Linked DNA regions of Homo sapiens: region 1 is linked to region 2. Evidence: fine-mapped expression QTL. Tissue or cell type: spleen. Region 2 holds a variant in brackets; the other region holds the start of a gene. All regions are shown on one strand. Distances are from middle to middle.

Evidence for each region. PIP is the estimated chance that this variant, and not a neighbour inherited with it, causes the effect.
Region 1: DNAJC13 starts here. The variant in region 2 is fine-mapped to the expression of DNAJC13 in spleen (GTEx, PIP above 0.99).

The regions. Positions count from the first base shown.
Region 1 is chr3:132,412,909-132,420,908 of GRCh38, forward strand. DNAJC13 (DnaJ heat shock protein family (Hsp40) member C13) reads left to right here and starts at 4,594. Exons shown (of 56, transcript NM_015268.4): 1 at 4,594-4,852. RefSeq lists silencers at 4,284-4,383, 4,664-4,803 and enhancers at 4,834-4,983, 4,923-5,458.
Region 2 is chr3:132,566,237-132,574,503 of GRCh38, forward strand. The region is part of intron 17 of ACAD11 (acyl-CoA dehydrogenase family member 11); the gene reads right to left. All of the region lies in intron 42 of NPHP3-ACAD11 (NPHP3-ACAD11 readthrough (NMD candidate)), which reads right to left. Among named protein-coding and RNA genes, the nearest start is that of ACKR4, 27 kb to the right of the region's middle. The variant C/A (reference allele first, on the strand shown) is at 3,417.

The DNA of each region.
Region 1 (8,000 bases), 150 kb before region 2:
TCAGCAGTGTATATATTGTAAAAGAGCAGTTGTGGTAAAATTTAATAAGGAAAAAGAACACAGGCCTTTTTCTTAACCAGTTAAAATTTCAATAATAGTTTAAAATTGTTAGACCACAGAATAAGTTATTTTCTTTTCCCTCCTCATCCATCTTTGAAAATATAATCAAATCTAGATAATTTCCTGTAATTAAATGAAAGCATGTTTTTGTTAATAAAATATTATAAATTCAAAATCCTTTATATATGAACATCATTATACTATTTAAAAAGATATTTTAATTCACATTAATAATAAAACTAGACTTCCTGGGGTAGGATTAAGTGAGCTGGGGAAGCCAGGCTATCAGTTACAAAAAAAAAAAATTGTGGATCCTATATATATATACAGATACATATGTATATATGTCAAGAAATTCTCATGTCATAATTTGTCATATGTTGTAAATAATTTCAATTATTTGAATTACAGTATAGAGAAACACAGAAAACTAAATACGTGTGGCCAGATAAATCTTGAGAAAAACCACTAAAGACAAACAACCAACCAATCACATAACAAATTAAAATGAAGTCCAGTAGAAGATTCTGTGGAAGCTTCAAGCTCACCAACTCGACGTAGTTGTTTTCTGACACTTACTGTTTGCTTGCACAAGATTTTCTAATAGCAGTATTGTCCAAGAGAAATACAATGGGAGCCATATATTTAATTTTACATTTACTAGTAGCTACATTCCTTAAAAGAAACAAGTGAAATTAATTTTAATAACATTTTATTTAACCAAATATACAGCCATAATATTATCATTTCCACATGTGACAAAGAGTCTTTGCTCAGCCAAATTTTAATCAGGCTTCTGAACCTTTCCTTAGGCCCCTCTGTGTGCTTCCTTGAAAAGTCTAGTCTGCAAAAGAACCTGGCTAAGTCAGTTTAGCCAAAATTCCCTCGATATGTGATCAGATTCCTCATCTTTCACCTTCCCCCAGAAGATGTCTAATCACTCTGGCCTGTCTTTAGCAAGAATCCTGTTACGTAGGTTTAGCCAGGATCCCCGCTCACCCCTGATGTTTTCTCTTAGTAATTTTCCATCCACTGACCCCCACACACTGTTCCTTGGAGATAAATGCATACTTGCCCGTGTCGTTTTCCGACCTGAGCCCCGTCTCTCTCCCTTACTGCAAGCCCCTGTTGCAGTGGCTCCTGTACCTATTGTAATGATCGTAAATAAACTGAATAAAATCTTTTTTGTGGGGAGCAGGGGGTACAGGGTCTTTCTCTGCTGCCCAGGCAGGAGTGCAGTGGCACAATTATAGCTCACTGTAACCTCGAACTCCTGGGCTCAAGAGATCCTCTCACCTCAGCCTCCTGAGTAACTAGCACTACAGGGGCATGCCCCCATGCCCAGATAATGCTTTTATTTTTATTATTTTGTAGCAATGGGGTCCCACTACATTGCATAGGCTGGTCTCAAACTCCTGGCCTCAAGTGATCCTCCTGACTTGGCCTCCCAAAGCCTTGGGATTACAGGTGTCAGCCATCATGCTCAGCCTATTACCAAGCTTTAACAAGTATCATTAAATAATACTTTTTTTTTTTTTGAGAGTTTCACTCTTGTTGCCCAGGCTGGAGTGCAGTGGCACCATCTCGGCTCACTGCAACCTCCCCCTCCCAGGTTCAAGTGATTCTCCTGCCTCAGCATCCCGAATAGCTGGGATTACAGGTATGCACCACCAGGCCCGCCTAATTTTTTTATATTTAGTAGAGACGGGGTTTCATCATGTTGGCCAAGCTGGTCTCAAACTCCTGACCTCAGGTGATCCACCCGCCTCAGCCTCCCAAAGTGCTGGGACTACAGGCGTGAGCCACCGTGCCCGGCCTAAATATTTTTTTCTTTTAACACGTGTAATCAATATAAAAATTGCTAATGCAACATTTTACATTTTTTTGTAACAATTTTAATTTTTATTCTGTGTTCAGTAGCCACATAGGGCTAGTGGCTACTGTACTGAAAACATAGTTCAAGCATTGTTGAGTGGTATGAGTTCTTAAGGATTTACTTTGGATCTGGGCATTGATATAATTAGGAAGGTCAATTTAGCAGCAATGGGAATTAGATAAGCAAGTGTTTGACATTCTTGTGGGCTCTCTAAAGTCTTAGATCACTCCAGCCTTGTATGCTAACTTTGGAGACTGATAAAGGCTATTGGTGCCTAAAAGGCTGTGAAATGTATTTTTTAAAAAGCTGTGAAATATTTTAAGTGTACATCACATAATTTAGATTGTAAATTTGATACATCTGCACTATGAAAGTGTCAGAAACGCTAGTGCAAACTTTAATTATGAATAAAAAGACAAATCCAGAAAAAGAAGTGTGCATTTGTCACTCTTAAAAAAGAGTTGGGTGGGGAAAGGATCCAACTGATTTAACCTAATAGGGAAAGAAGAGACAAGTCCTACTCTCCCTGACTCTTGTATTTTGTTGTGGCATTTTAAGAAGGATCCAATTGTATGGATCCAATTAAAAGCAACCAGTGGTTGTGAAAAGGCTTGAAACTACATCTTGTGAACAATGGTTGAAAGTACTTTGAATATGGTTTCTTAAAATGAGTATCTGTAGCAGGGGTAGTTAGAAGGATATGCACGGGAGAGGGAGTGGGAAAGGGTGATAAGCTGTACTGATAAGTGCTTAAATGAATGTCACATACAAGAAGAAAAGAGCAAGAAACAAAGACAAAATAACTACTCATAGAAGAGAGTGCAAGTTGGCTGAATACAAGGAAAATGGCTTATAAAAATGCAATGGAAAAAGATGTCTTGTGAGGCAATTTTGCACTACAGAGGATGGGGACAATTCATGATGCCTAAGGCTCCTCTCAACACGAGAATTGATTTTATTGGTCTCAAATATTGAACAGAGAGGCAGTGTGGAGGTTGAACAGTTCACTGGCCTTGATGTTACAGGCAGGCCCTGTGTCTTAATCTTGGCTCAACCTTTAGGAGTTAGGTCACCTTTAGCAAGTCTCCTGGACTCTCTGGGTCTGCTGCTTCTCTAAAATCGAAATAATATACCCCACATTTACTTTTGGGATTACTGGAAGGCTTTGTAACCACATAAACACGTTTCTGTTTCCATGGGATAAGCCAATAAGGCCCCTTAACACAGCCCTCCTGTTTCTTTTTCCTCCTCCTCCCTTCCTACTCTATTTCGGGTTCTGTCTTCCCACACCCAGCTATTCCTAGTACCTTCCCTTACATGCACCTTATCTTACTGCTGCATTACAGAAAAGTCTAAGGATAAACACAAATAGTCTTTTTCCGCCCTAAGGTAGGGCAAAGGGTTAATAGAATCAAGAGGTAAAGTCTGTAAAAACCATTTTTCCACATTTTTTCATCCTGCAATCGCTGTCTATAAAATGAGCCAACTTGCTGAAGGGGACGCCAAGAAATCACAATTTCAGGACTGCCATGAAGAATGAGTATTCAACTCCTTATCAGAGACCTTTAACCCTTATACAATAATGTATCCATGCAGGTCACCCTACACTGCCTCTACTCTGAAGTCTGCAGCAGAATCACTATTTTTTTTTTAATCACTAATTTTTAAACTGTGGTCTTTACGGCTCAGATCTGGGAGTGGACATTGACCTTTCTTATTTAAACCATTGCCCACAGATAACACATAATTTCTAGCCGAATCCTTTAGTCCCAATATCCCCTCTTTTCACTGCCCTGACTTCCCTCTCAGGTGAGGTTCAGGAAGATGGTTATCTAGAGGGCACAGGTTCTGGGTTCAAATTACTTGGGTGCAAACATGAAATCCACTACTCTGAGGCTGGGCCTCAACTTATCTGCAAAACGAGGATGATTCGTATCTCAGAGAGTTGAAGATTAAGCAGCTTTAAGTAAACTTCTAAACACTTGATCCGGACACAATAAATGGGGCTACCAGAACTATCTTTCCAGCATTCCCACCTGCAAATGCCTTAGGCGTCTCTGAGAATTTGGTCTCTGAGACCTTCCAGAGCATCCATAACTTAAACCCTGCTCTGCTGTCGTTCAGGACGTCTCAATAGTAAATGAACCTGCTGGCTCCCAATCCAGCCAAACCAGGAGATAGGCTGAGGCTTCAGACTGCCTCGCAGATGCTCCATGGCACTTGACGGCAAGAGCTAAAAAGAGGTGATTTAAAACAAGATTTCCTCGGACTTAAAGCTTAAGTACCGGGTTGCGACCCTACTCTCCGCAGGACATAAGCGGAGGGGCGCGGCCCTAAGGCACACGCCGGAGGGGCGTGGTCATGGGCACCCGCCGGAGGGGCGTGGTCATGGGCACCCGCGCGCGCCCAGGGGCGTGTCCTTTTCAGCACCCACCGAGGCGCCAGCCCCCTGACGCGCTGCGTGGAATCCAAATCCCACGGCCGGTGTCGTTACTCTGCGCATGTGTAGCTGCTGGGGGCTGGCCGGAGGAAAGCAGAATTTCAGGGAAAGAACGATCGGGACGGGGAGGACGGGGAGGGCGGGGCAGAAGACGGAAGAGTTGAAATCAGCTGACTGGGTCTCGTGACAGCCTGGGCGGTGGCGACGCAGGCGTATTAGAGCGCGCTCGCTCAAAGCCTGAGCGAAGATGGCGGCCTCCAGAGTGAAACTCTGAGAGGCAGAGGGAGGAGGCGGAGGGGGCGGGGAGGCAGCGCCGCGGCGGCACCAGGAACCCGCGGCAGCGGAGCTGCAGGGCCCCGGCGGGGGAAAGGGGAAGTGGTGAGGGTGAGGAGGCCGGAGGGCGCCTCATCCCACTCTGGAAGCTGAGCCGGCGGCGGGAGGAGCTAGGGCTGGAGCCTCTCCAGCCTCCCGCGAAGGTAAAGCCGACTCCGGGCACTGGGCTCTGGGGCTCTGCCTTACTCCCTTCCCACGCCGTGGGGACTTTGTGGGGCTCAGGGCAGGGAAAACGGGGTGGTCTTGGCTGCTGCAGCCTGCAGCTGCTAAGGAAGCAGATTACCCTTCCCCCAGGCTGCTGGTCTGGTTCCTTTCGTTGGACGCCCCCCCGGCTTTGAGTGACATTAGCTCAGGGCGCTGCCCTGTCCAGCCCCACCCCTTTTTTTTGCTTGTTTTATACCTAGTACGCTCCTCCACTCGCCTTAACATATCCTTACCCCACAGGCTCTTCATTCCCTTGTGGGTTCCGCCCTCGGGATTCCCTTCCAGTCTCCTAGTCTGAGCACCCTTCCTGCTGGATGCCGGCAACTCTTGTTTCCTTGGGTCAGCGACCCTCCTTCCGAACAAGTCCTGCAGACTGACTTTCTTTGCTTTGTTTCGTTTTGTTAGGAAATGAGCATCCGCGTCGTCTGTTCTCCAGTACTTTTTCTAAAATCATTTTCTCCCCTAAGGCTTTTCCTTCCTGCAAGGCAGCTTATTCACGTGGCCTTTCCTCCGCTGCTGTGATTTTATCTTTGAATGTGGCCTTTGGAGTGGGTAAAGTAGGACTTAGACGCTCAGTGAAGTGGCTGTTAATCACTTGATACTTAACTATGTTTAAGAGTGCCTTCCCTTAAATTTTCTCCTTTTGTAGCGTGTTCCGTTAACCACGTTTGTCTTAAGATTGTTTCCTGTGTCCGTTGCTTAGAGGGGGGAAAAAAGTAAAGATTTCACCCTAATGTGGCGGTGGTCTCCCAAAGTAATTATTTCTCATTTTCCCTCTGCTTTTCCCTTTTACGTTATTCTGATTTCCCTCAAAAAGGAGGTTCTGTACCTGATGCTGTTGCGTCCTCTATGAAGGGCTTTATAGTGTACAGTTATGTTGAGCCTTTTGTAATACAGTGTCTTGGGGAAAAAAGTAGAAGTTCAGAACCTGCCCCCAGTAATTCTTTCTTACTATATTTTCTTTCTCAGTTTATGGACTTGATAGGTTTCTAGGTTTGAAACTACTGCCTGCAGGGAAAATTACAGTGATAAGGTTTTATAATATATTACCAGTACTTTGAGTTTATGGGAGTATGAAACAGAATTTGCCTTAAAAAAATAAATTTATAGAAACCACTTGTCAGAAATTCGGTATCCAGAACACAGTTCTTTGATTTTTGGAAAGTACTTTATTGGCTTATCTATCATATAACGTAAAACCTTGTTCACATTTTGTGTAATGTGAAACGCTTTTTAAGCTACTATATCTCAGACTTGGCTTGTGCTGTTAGTATCACAATGCATTCAGGCAACACACGTCCTTGTGTAGAAATTATTACATTATACTCCTTGTTTGAAAACAGGAAGTAGAACATATTAAGGGAGGAAAAGAGGAGTCAGAGGATTATTAAGAAATAAGAATGTAAAGAACCTTAAGGCTAGAGTTCAGTTCATGGAAAATATCAGCATTTGTATTCCACTGAGAGGCAATGAATATTCCTCTTTTTCTAAAGTGGTAGTAATAAATAGTCTAAAATATATTAATGTTATATATTGTTAACAAGCTTAGTTGTAAACAAAATACTTAAGCTAAAAAATAAAATATTAATAAGTGAATGAATTGTTTGGAATAATTTAACTTTATCCACAAATAAATAGAAGATGGTTGCCTTGCCCAGGTGGACTGTAACAATACTGGCTTTATTAAATTTGTTAAAAGGTTGATAGTGGAGTCCGGTTCTCAATAGGTCCCAAATTAGGGTTGAAATTGAAAAGATGTGTTTTAACTAATTTGGCTTCATTCCTCAACCAGTTCTGTTTACACAGGTGAATATGAGGTTTCTGCTACACATACCTTTCCCCTGCTTCTGATTGAGGTACTTTAAATTAGTAATTGAAACAAGGCTGTGCAGATAAACTGCAGCACAAATTTGGTTGCTACAAATAGGTTTTGGCCTAAATGTTCACTGTAAAACATGGCAGTAGTTAAAGGGGAGTTATTAATATTTTGAAAGAGTTCCTTGAGTCAGTGTTTCTCAACTTTATTAGACCCAATAAAGGCTCCCTTTTTATAAAAAATAATTAGTAACACCTTCTTTGCTATCTTTAGTTTATAAATAATGTAACTACCTCTGGCTTTGGCCCTGAGACAAAAAAAGAAGCTTTGCTCTCACTTCTGCAACAAAAAAAGACCTACACTACAAATTCATGACTTTTTTGAAATCTATTAAAGAGCTGAGTCCACAGAGCAAAACCACTGGCTGAAAATTTGAGAGACAGTGCTTACAGAGAGTAGATGTCAATTTCTGTTTACCGTCTTCAGACACAACTGGACAAAAAGCATGATGAAAGCTGAATGCACAATCTTGCAAACTCTTATCCACAAACCTCCCTGGGTCTACTAGAAAAGACTGGAAAGAACCCTGGGTGAGTCTGCTGTGCAGATTGAGAGGGAGAGGAACAGCAACAGAACTTTTAAGAGGGTCAAGAAACTGCTGTGATTCTTCCCCTCTGCCTCTTCTATGGAAAAAAGCTTTAATCTCTGGGGAGAAGGGTATCTCTGTTGGCCCCATTGGTGAACATTCAGGGGGTAGATGAGAAGTGGGAGAGAATCTTATGCCTGGAGGAGGGGCCCTGAGCCCAAAACTGCAGTCGGGAGTGGTCAACAGAACCGAGAGTGCTGCCCTCCTGAGATTCAGGAACACAGTGTTTGACTTAGACTTAATCAGAACATCAGACTGTATCCCCCACCCCCAACCCCCTGCCACCAAGCTAAGAAGCTTTCAGTAACAAGTAACCCACAAAATACTACTAGGAAAGGAACAAGATTATGCAAAGAGGCACAACACAAAGAATCAAACAGGCATTGCTCTAGTAAACCATCGCCCACCAGAGAGACAAACTGTTCTGCAGATTCATGAAGGCTGTAATACACTGAGGATAACTATGGCAAAAACAAATCATAAACTAAGTCCAACTCCTAACCAGATTAACACAAACCCTTCACCAAAGGCCTCACAAAGAACAGGCGTGCTCATTTCCAGTCATAAAAATTACCTCAATCTCTACTCCTACACAACATGTCCAGCTTTTAACCAAAAATTATGA
Region 2 (8,267 bases):
GAACTGGAAGATAGGACAATAGAAACAGCCCACCCTAAACCAAAGAGAGAAAACAAACTCAAAAAAACAAAAAAAAAAAGAACAGCATCATAGGAACATGTGGAATTATAACAAAAGATTTACCATTCACATCACCAGATTCCAGGAAGAAGAGAAAGAGTAAGGCTGAAAAAGTTTGAAGAAACAATGGTTGAAAACATCCCAAATTTGGCAAGAGACCTAAACCTGAAGATTCAAGAAGCTGGGTGAATCCCAAGCAGGATAAATCCTAGAAATCCATACCAACACACATCATGATTAAGTTTCTGAAAAAATAGACATAAAAAAATCTTGAAAGCACCAGAGAAAAATGACACCTTACCTATAGCAGGGATATATATATGTCAGAAGGAAGCAGCACAATATTTTTCTAGTGCTGAAAGAAAAGAAACTTATATCCAGTGGGGATATCTTCCAGGAATAAAGAAGAAATAAGACATTCTTAGAAGAAGCAAAACAGAATTTGTCACTTTTAGACCCTAAAGGAAATGTTAAAGGAAGTTCTCTAAATGGAAAGAAAAAGATAAAAGAAGAAACCTTGGAAAATCAGGAAAGAAGAAAGAACACAATAAGCAAAAATACAGCTAATAAAATTCGTTTGCTTTCTTCTCTAAAATTTTCTAAAGTATATTTGATGGTGGAGGCAAAAATTATAACCCTGATGTTGTTCTAAATGTATTTAGAGAAAATAATTAAGACAATTATATTGTTTATTTATTTAGAGACAGAGTCTCACTCTATCTCCCAGGCTGGAGTGCAGTGGCGTGATCTCAGCTCACTGCAACCTCCGCCTCCTGGGTTTAAGCAATTCTTGTGCCTCAGCCTCCCGAATAGCTGGGGTTACAGGCACACGCCACCATACCCGGCTAATTTTTGTATTTTTAGTAGAAACAGGGTTTCACCATGTTGGCCAGGCTGGTCTCAAACTCCTGACCTCAAATGATCCACCCGCCATGGCCTCCCAAAGTGTGGGATTACAGGTGTGAACTACTGCGCCAGGCCCAAGACAATTATATTATAAATGGGAGAAGTTAAAGGAACTTAAAGGAAGGTAAAATGTCTATACTTGACTCAAACTGGTAAAATGATGACACCAATAGACTTTAATAAGATCTAGAGAGAAAGGTAACTAGATAGATAGATAAACATGTATATATAATACCTAGAACAACCACCAAAACAGCTATACAAAGAGACACTCGAGAAACACTATAAATAAATCAAAATGTAGTTCTAAAAATGTTAAATTAACCCACAGGAATGCAGGAAAAGGAAAACAGAAAAACAATAACCAGAGAGAACAAACAGAAAACAAAAATAAAATATCCGATTTAAGCCCTAACATATCAGTTATTATAAAGACAAAGATTGATAAAGTGGATTAAAAATATGACCAAACTATATGTTATTTAGAAGAAATGTATATCAAATATAATGATATAGGGCCAGGTATGGTGGCATCCACAACAGGACATCTACAAAAATGCTATAGCTAACATTATACCTAACATTCCCCTAAGACAGAGAACAAGATAAGAATGTCAGTTCTCACCTCTCTTATTCAACATAGTATTGGAAGTTCTAGCCAGTGCAATAAGACAAAGGAAGGAGACAAAAAGCATGTATATCATAAAAGAATAAATAAAACTGTTCCTTATTTACAGATGACATGATTATCTATGTAAAATCCCAAGCAATCTACAAAAAACTCCTAGAACTAATAAGTGAGTTCAGCGAGGCCACAGGGTATGAGATAAACATACAACATGGTGAAACCCTGTCTCTACTAAAAATACAAAAAAATTAGCCAGGTGTGGTGGCAGGCACCTGAATCCTAGCTACTTGGGAGGCTGAGGCTGGAGAATCGCTTGAACCCAGGAGGCGGAGACCGCAGTGAGCCAAGATCATGCAATTACACTCCAGCCTGGGCAACAACAGTGAAACTTCATCTCAAAAAAACAAAACAAAAAAACTATACTTCCATATACTAGTAATAGACCCTGAAATTAAAAACACAATACTTATTATAATTGCTCAAAACTGAAATACTTATGTATAGGACTTGTATGCTGAAAACTACACACAGATGAGATGATGTGTGTAGATGATGAAAGAAACCAAGGAAAAGCTAAATAAATGGAGAGATATACCAGGTTCACAGAATAGAAAACTCCACATAGTAAAGATATCAATTTTTCTTAATGTTTGCAGATATAGACAAGATTATTTTTAAATTATATGCAAAGGCAAAGGAACCAGAATAGCTGAAACACTTTTGAAAGAGAAGTCTAAACTGAGAGGAATCAGCCTAGCTTATTTGAAGACTGACTATGTAACCACAGTAATCAAGACTGTGCAGTGTTGGCAGAGACTGACGCATAGATAATTAAGACAGAAGAGACAACCCATATATAAACCCACACAAATAATGTCTGACTGATTTTTGAGAAAGGCACAAAAACAATTCAATGGAGGAAACATAGCTTTTTCAAAAAACGTTGCTGAAGCAATTGGACATCCACAGGCAAAAAAAAAAAAAAAAAAAAAAAAAAGAAGCTTGACCTAAGTTTCATACAAAAGTTAACTCAAAATGTAAGCAGACACAAATGTAAAATGTGAAACTTTTAGTGACACATTATGGGAGAAAATCTTCAGAATATAGGATTCGGCAGAGTTATTAGACTTGACACCAAAAGCATGACCCACATAAGCAAAAATTGACAAATTAGAGTTCATTAAAATTAAACACTTTTGTTCTGTGAACGACCCTGTTAAGAGGATGAAAAGACAAGATACAGAGTAGGAGAAAATATTTACAAACTACATATCTGACAGGATAGTATCTAGAATATATAAAGAACTCTCAAAATTCAAAGTAAAAAAAAAGTGATCTAGGACATGGACACAGGACATGAACCAAAGAGGACATAAGATGGCAAATAAGCACATGAAAAGATGCTCAACATGATTCACCAACAGGGCAACTGAGATTAAAGCCACAATGAGATATCACTACAAACCCATCAGAATGGCTAAAATTAAAAAGTAGTGACAACACCATATGCTGGAGGGGATGTGGAGAAACTGAATCACTCATACACAGTTAGTGAGAATCAAAAATAGAAAAGCTCAGCAGTTTCCAAAAAAAACTAAACATGCAACTACCACATGACACAGTAATTGCACTCGTGGGCATTTATCTCTGAGAAACGAAAAATTATATTTACACAAAAGCCTACACAAATGTTTACAGCAATTTTATTTGCAATAACCCAAACCTGGAAACAACCCAGATGTCCCTCAACAGGTAAAAACAGTTAAACAAACTGTAGTATATCCAGACTAAGGAATACTACTGAACAATAAAAATGAACCAA[C/A]TACTGATAAACACAACCTAGATAAATCTCCGAGAAATTATGTTGAGTGAAAACAGCCAGTGTCAAATGTTTTCATATTGTATGACTCCATTCTTGGAATGACAAAATTGTAAAATGAAGAACAGATTAGTGGTTGCCAGGAGTTAATGAGAAGGTTGGGGTGGAAGCAAAGTAAATGTGGCTATAAAAGGGCAACATGAAGGATCCTTGTAGTGAATGGAATGCTCTGTATTCTGACTATATTCATGACAACATCCTGGTCCTGATACTATATTCTAGTTTTGCAAGATGTTACCATTGGGGAAACTGGGCAAAGGATTCAAGAGATCTATATGTTATTTCTTATACCTGTATGTGAAACTGTAATTATCTCAAAGTGAAAAGTTGAATTTAAAAATTGGTACTTGCTTCTTGTTTAGCTTAGAAAACATTCTGTGAGTTTTCCCAATTTGTCAGAACTTGTAAGAGAAGCAGGGAGGTAAGTGGAAAAATATGAAAATCAAACCTCACCATAAGTCCCACAGGCAAGCAAACATTCAGAATTCTGCAATGAAACCCAGGAGGCATACAAAACGTGTCCAGCAGGCTCTAAGGAGTTTTTTGGTTTCCAATTCTAAACACAGAATTGAGTTGGTCCAAGTGTTGTGGGTTACTGTTAAGCTAAACACAGAATTGGTTTCCAATTCTAAACACAGAATTGGTGTTTACAATGGAGAAAAATGTTCATCAAGATGAGTTAAACCAGCAGACAATTACGGTGCTTTGATTCGAGCCATATTAACCTTCCATACCTGTGTTTTCCAGATTATATTTACATTTTATTTTATTTTTTTTCTGATGGTAATCATATCTTTTTTATTTACTTTTAACTTTTAAATTCGGGATACATGTGCAAGTTTGTTATATAGATAAACTCGTGCCATGGGGGTTTATTATACAGATTATTTCGTCACTCAGGTATTAATCCTAGTACCCATTAGTTATTTTTCCCGACCCTCTCCCTCCTCCCACCTTCCACCCTCTGGTAGGCTACCATGTCTGTTATTTCCCTTTATGTGTCCATGTGTTCTCATCATTTAGCTCCCACTTATAAGTGACAAAATGTGGTATTTAGTTTTCTGTTCCTGCGTTAGTTGGCTAAGGATAATGACCTCCAGCTCTATCCATGTTCCCACAAAAGAAATCAACTTATTCTTTTTACGGCTGCATAATGTTCCATGGTGTTTCTGTACCACATTTTCTTTATCCAGTCTATCATTGATGAGCATTTAGGTTGATTCCATGTCTTCACTATTATGAATAGTGCTGTACTGAACATACACACGCATGTGTCTTTAACGTAGAATGACTTATATACCTTTGCGTATATATCCAGTAATGGAATTGCTGGGTCAAATGGTATTTCTGTTTTAAGTTCTTTGAGGAATCCTCACACTGTTTTCCACAATGGCTGAACTCCCACCAACAGTGTATAAGCCTTCCTTTTTCTCCACAACCTCACCAGCCCAGCATCTGTTATTTTTTAATAACAGCCATTCTGACTAGTGTTAGATAGTATCTCACTGTGGCTTTTTTTTTATTTGTATTTCTCTAATGATCAGTGATTTTTAGCTTTTTTTCACATGCCTGTTGGCCACATGTCTGTCTTCTTTTCAAAAGAGTCTGTTCATGTCTTTGGCCTACTTTTTAACGGTTTTTTTTTTTTTTTGTAAATTTGTTTAAGTTCCTTATAGATGTTGGATGTTAGACTTTTGTCAGATGCAAATAGTTTGCTAAATTTTCTCCAATTCTGTAGGTTGCCTATTTACTCTGTTGATAGTTTCTTTTGCCGTGCAGAAGCTCGTTAGTTTAATTAGATTGCATTGATCAATTTTTGCTTTTTTTGTAATGGCTTTTGGCATCTTCATCATGAAATCTTTGCCCATTCCTATGTCCAGAATGGCATTGCGTAGGTTGTCTTCCAGGGTTTTTATAGTTTTGGGTTTTACAGTTAAGTCTTTGATCCTCAACAAAATACTGGAAAACAGAATCCAGCAACACATCAAAAGGCTTATCCACCATGATCCAGTAGGCTATATCCTTGGGATGTAAGGTTGGTTCAACATTTGCAAATCAATAAATCTGATTCATCACATAGAACTAAAGACAAAAACCACTTGATCATCTCAATAGATGCAGAAAAGGCTTTCAATAAAATTCAACACCTCTGCTAAACTTTTCTGTTAAAAACTCTCAATAAACTAGGTATTCGAGGAACATACCTCAAAATAATAAGAGCCATCTATGACAAAACCACAGCAAACATCATACTGAATGGGCAAACACTGGAAGCATTCCCCTTGAAAACTGGCACAAGACAAGGATGTCCTCTCTCACCACTCCTATTCAACACAGTATTGGAAGTCCTGGGCAGACCAATCAGGCAAGAGAAATAAATAAAGTGCATCAAAACAGGAAGACAGAAAGTCAAACTATCCCTGTTTGCAGAAGACATTATTCTATATCTAGAAAACCCCAGTCTCAGCCCTAAAGCTTCTTAAGCTGATAAACAACTTCAGCGAAGTCTCAGGATACAAAATCAACAAACAAAAATCACTAGCACTCCCCGAGAGCCAAATCGGGAATGCAATCCCATTCACAGTTGCCACAAAAAGAATAAAATACCTAGGAATAGAGCTAACCAGGGAGGTAAAAAATCTTTACAAGGAGAACTACAAAACAGTGCTCAAAGAAATCAGAGATGACATAAACAAATGGAAAAACATTCCATGCTCATGGATATGAAGAATCAATATCATTAAAATGACTATACTGCCTGGGGCAATTTATAGATTTAATGCTATTCCTATCAAGCTACCAATGACACTCTTCAAAGAACTAGGAAAAACTATTTTAAAATTTATATGGAACCAAGAAAGAGCCCAAATAGCCAAGGCACTCCTAAACAAAAAGAACAAAGCTGGAGGCATAATGTTACTTGACTTCAAACTATACTACAAGGCTACAGTAACCAAAACAGCATGGTACTGTTACAAAAACAGGTACATAGACCAATGTAACAGAGAGCCCAGAAATGGGGCCACATACCTACAACCATCTGATCATTGACAAAGGTGACAAAAACAAGCAATGGAGAAAGGACTCCCTTATTCAATAAATGGTGCTGGGATAACTTGCTAGCCATCTGCAGGGGATTGAAACTGCGCACCTTCCTTACATCTTAGCCATTTTTTTGACGTTTAATTGTCCTTTTATTTTCCTTTCTTTTCTTCTTTATTATTTTAAGTTCCGGGATACAAGTGCAAAATGTGTAGGTTTGTTACATAGGTATACAGGTGCCATGGTGGTTTGCTACACTTATCTACACGTCATCTAGGTTGTAAGCCCTGCATGCATTAGCTATTTGTCCTAATGCTCTCCCTCTCCTTGCCCCCACCCTCCAACTGGCCCCGGTGTGTGTTGTTCCCCTCCCCATGTCCATGTGTTCTTATTGTTCATCTCCCCACTTATGAGTGAGAACATGCACACCTTGGCCATTTTTATGCTTGGTCATGTTTGCCCTTCAACAGGGGATATTTGATTAGAGTTTCCCTAAAGCGGTGATGTTCAACATGATAGCTACTAACCATATGTGGCTAATGAGCATTTGAAACATACCTAGTCTGAACTGAGATGTACTATAAGTATAAAATATGCACCCCATATTGAAGAATAAATATTAAAATATAAAGTATCTCATTAATAATTTTTATATTGATTTCATGTTGAAATAGTATTTTTGATATATTGGGTTAAATAAAATATATTATTAAAATTAATTCCATCTTTTTCTTTTCACTTTTTAAAAATGTTGCTATTAGAACATTTAAAATAACATTTAAGGTTCATAGTATATTTCTTTTGGATGGCACTGCCCTAGAGGTTGAAACATGGCTCTGAATTAATTTCAAACAAGTTGCTGGTGGTGAATAAATATTTTTTGATGGCTGTAAAACAGGATAATTACAACTTTATAACTTCATGAACAGACTTAGAAGACATTTACTTCTCAGCTTTAGAATAAAGGAGGTATTCTCAGTTGGGTCTCTATAGACCCTAGATTTGCTGAAAAGCATTAAATGGGTAGAAACTAGGTGCTCTAGGGAACTGCCAAATATATTTCCTAAGACAGAACTGGGATGGAGAATTTTTTGCGTTACAGCCTGGAGTAAATTAGAAGGCAGCTGGAAGGAGCCTCCAAATTCAAAGAAATGAAATGTTCCTTTCACAAATTAAAATAAAAAAGCTGGCCCAGATTTTTGCTTATGACATGCTCACACATCTTTTTGTTTCTGCCAGATCACGTTATTTGTGCCAGATGTGAAAAGTTTCCAGTGAAAACAGGCATATTTGTTAAAAAGCCAGGCTTGCTCTGCATGACACATTAACTTTAAAAGGTGGAAGGGAAATTTTTTACTAATGCAGTATTAAAACACCACTCAGGAAAGCAGCACTTGCACAGAGGGCTTTTGTGCATTCGCGATGCTTGTTTGTCGACTTTACTGTGTCCTCCCTTCACCCTGCTCCAGAGTTTGCATGCAAGCTTGACAAAAGGGTAAGAAGTAATGGTTGGTGCCCTGAGCACCTCTTCATCCTTCTTCAACAGCATCAGAGGCTGTATCCAGGGCCCCAGAGGGTCACACTTTCTCACCTCCTCCCACAGTGCCCAGCCAACAGCTGAACTTTGCTGTATACTAAAAACTTGCCTTCGCTGTATACTAAAAGGGCTCCTGACAAATTATTCCCAGGTGTAGTGTCATAAAGCGGGCTGTAGCTTTTCAGTTAAAAAACTATACAAATAAATCATATAAT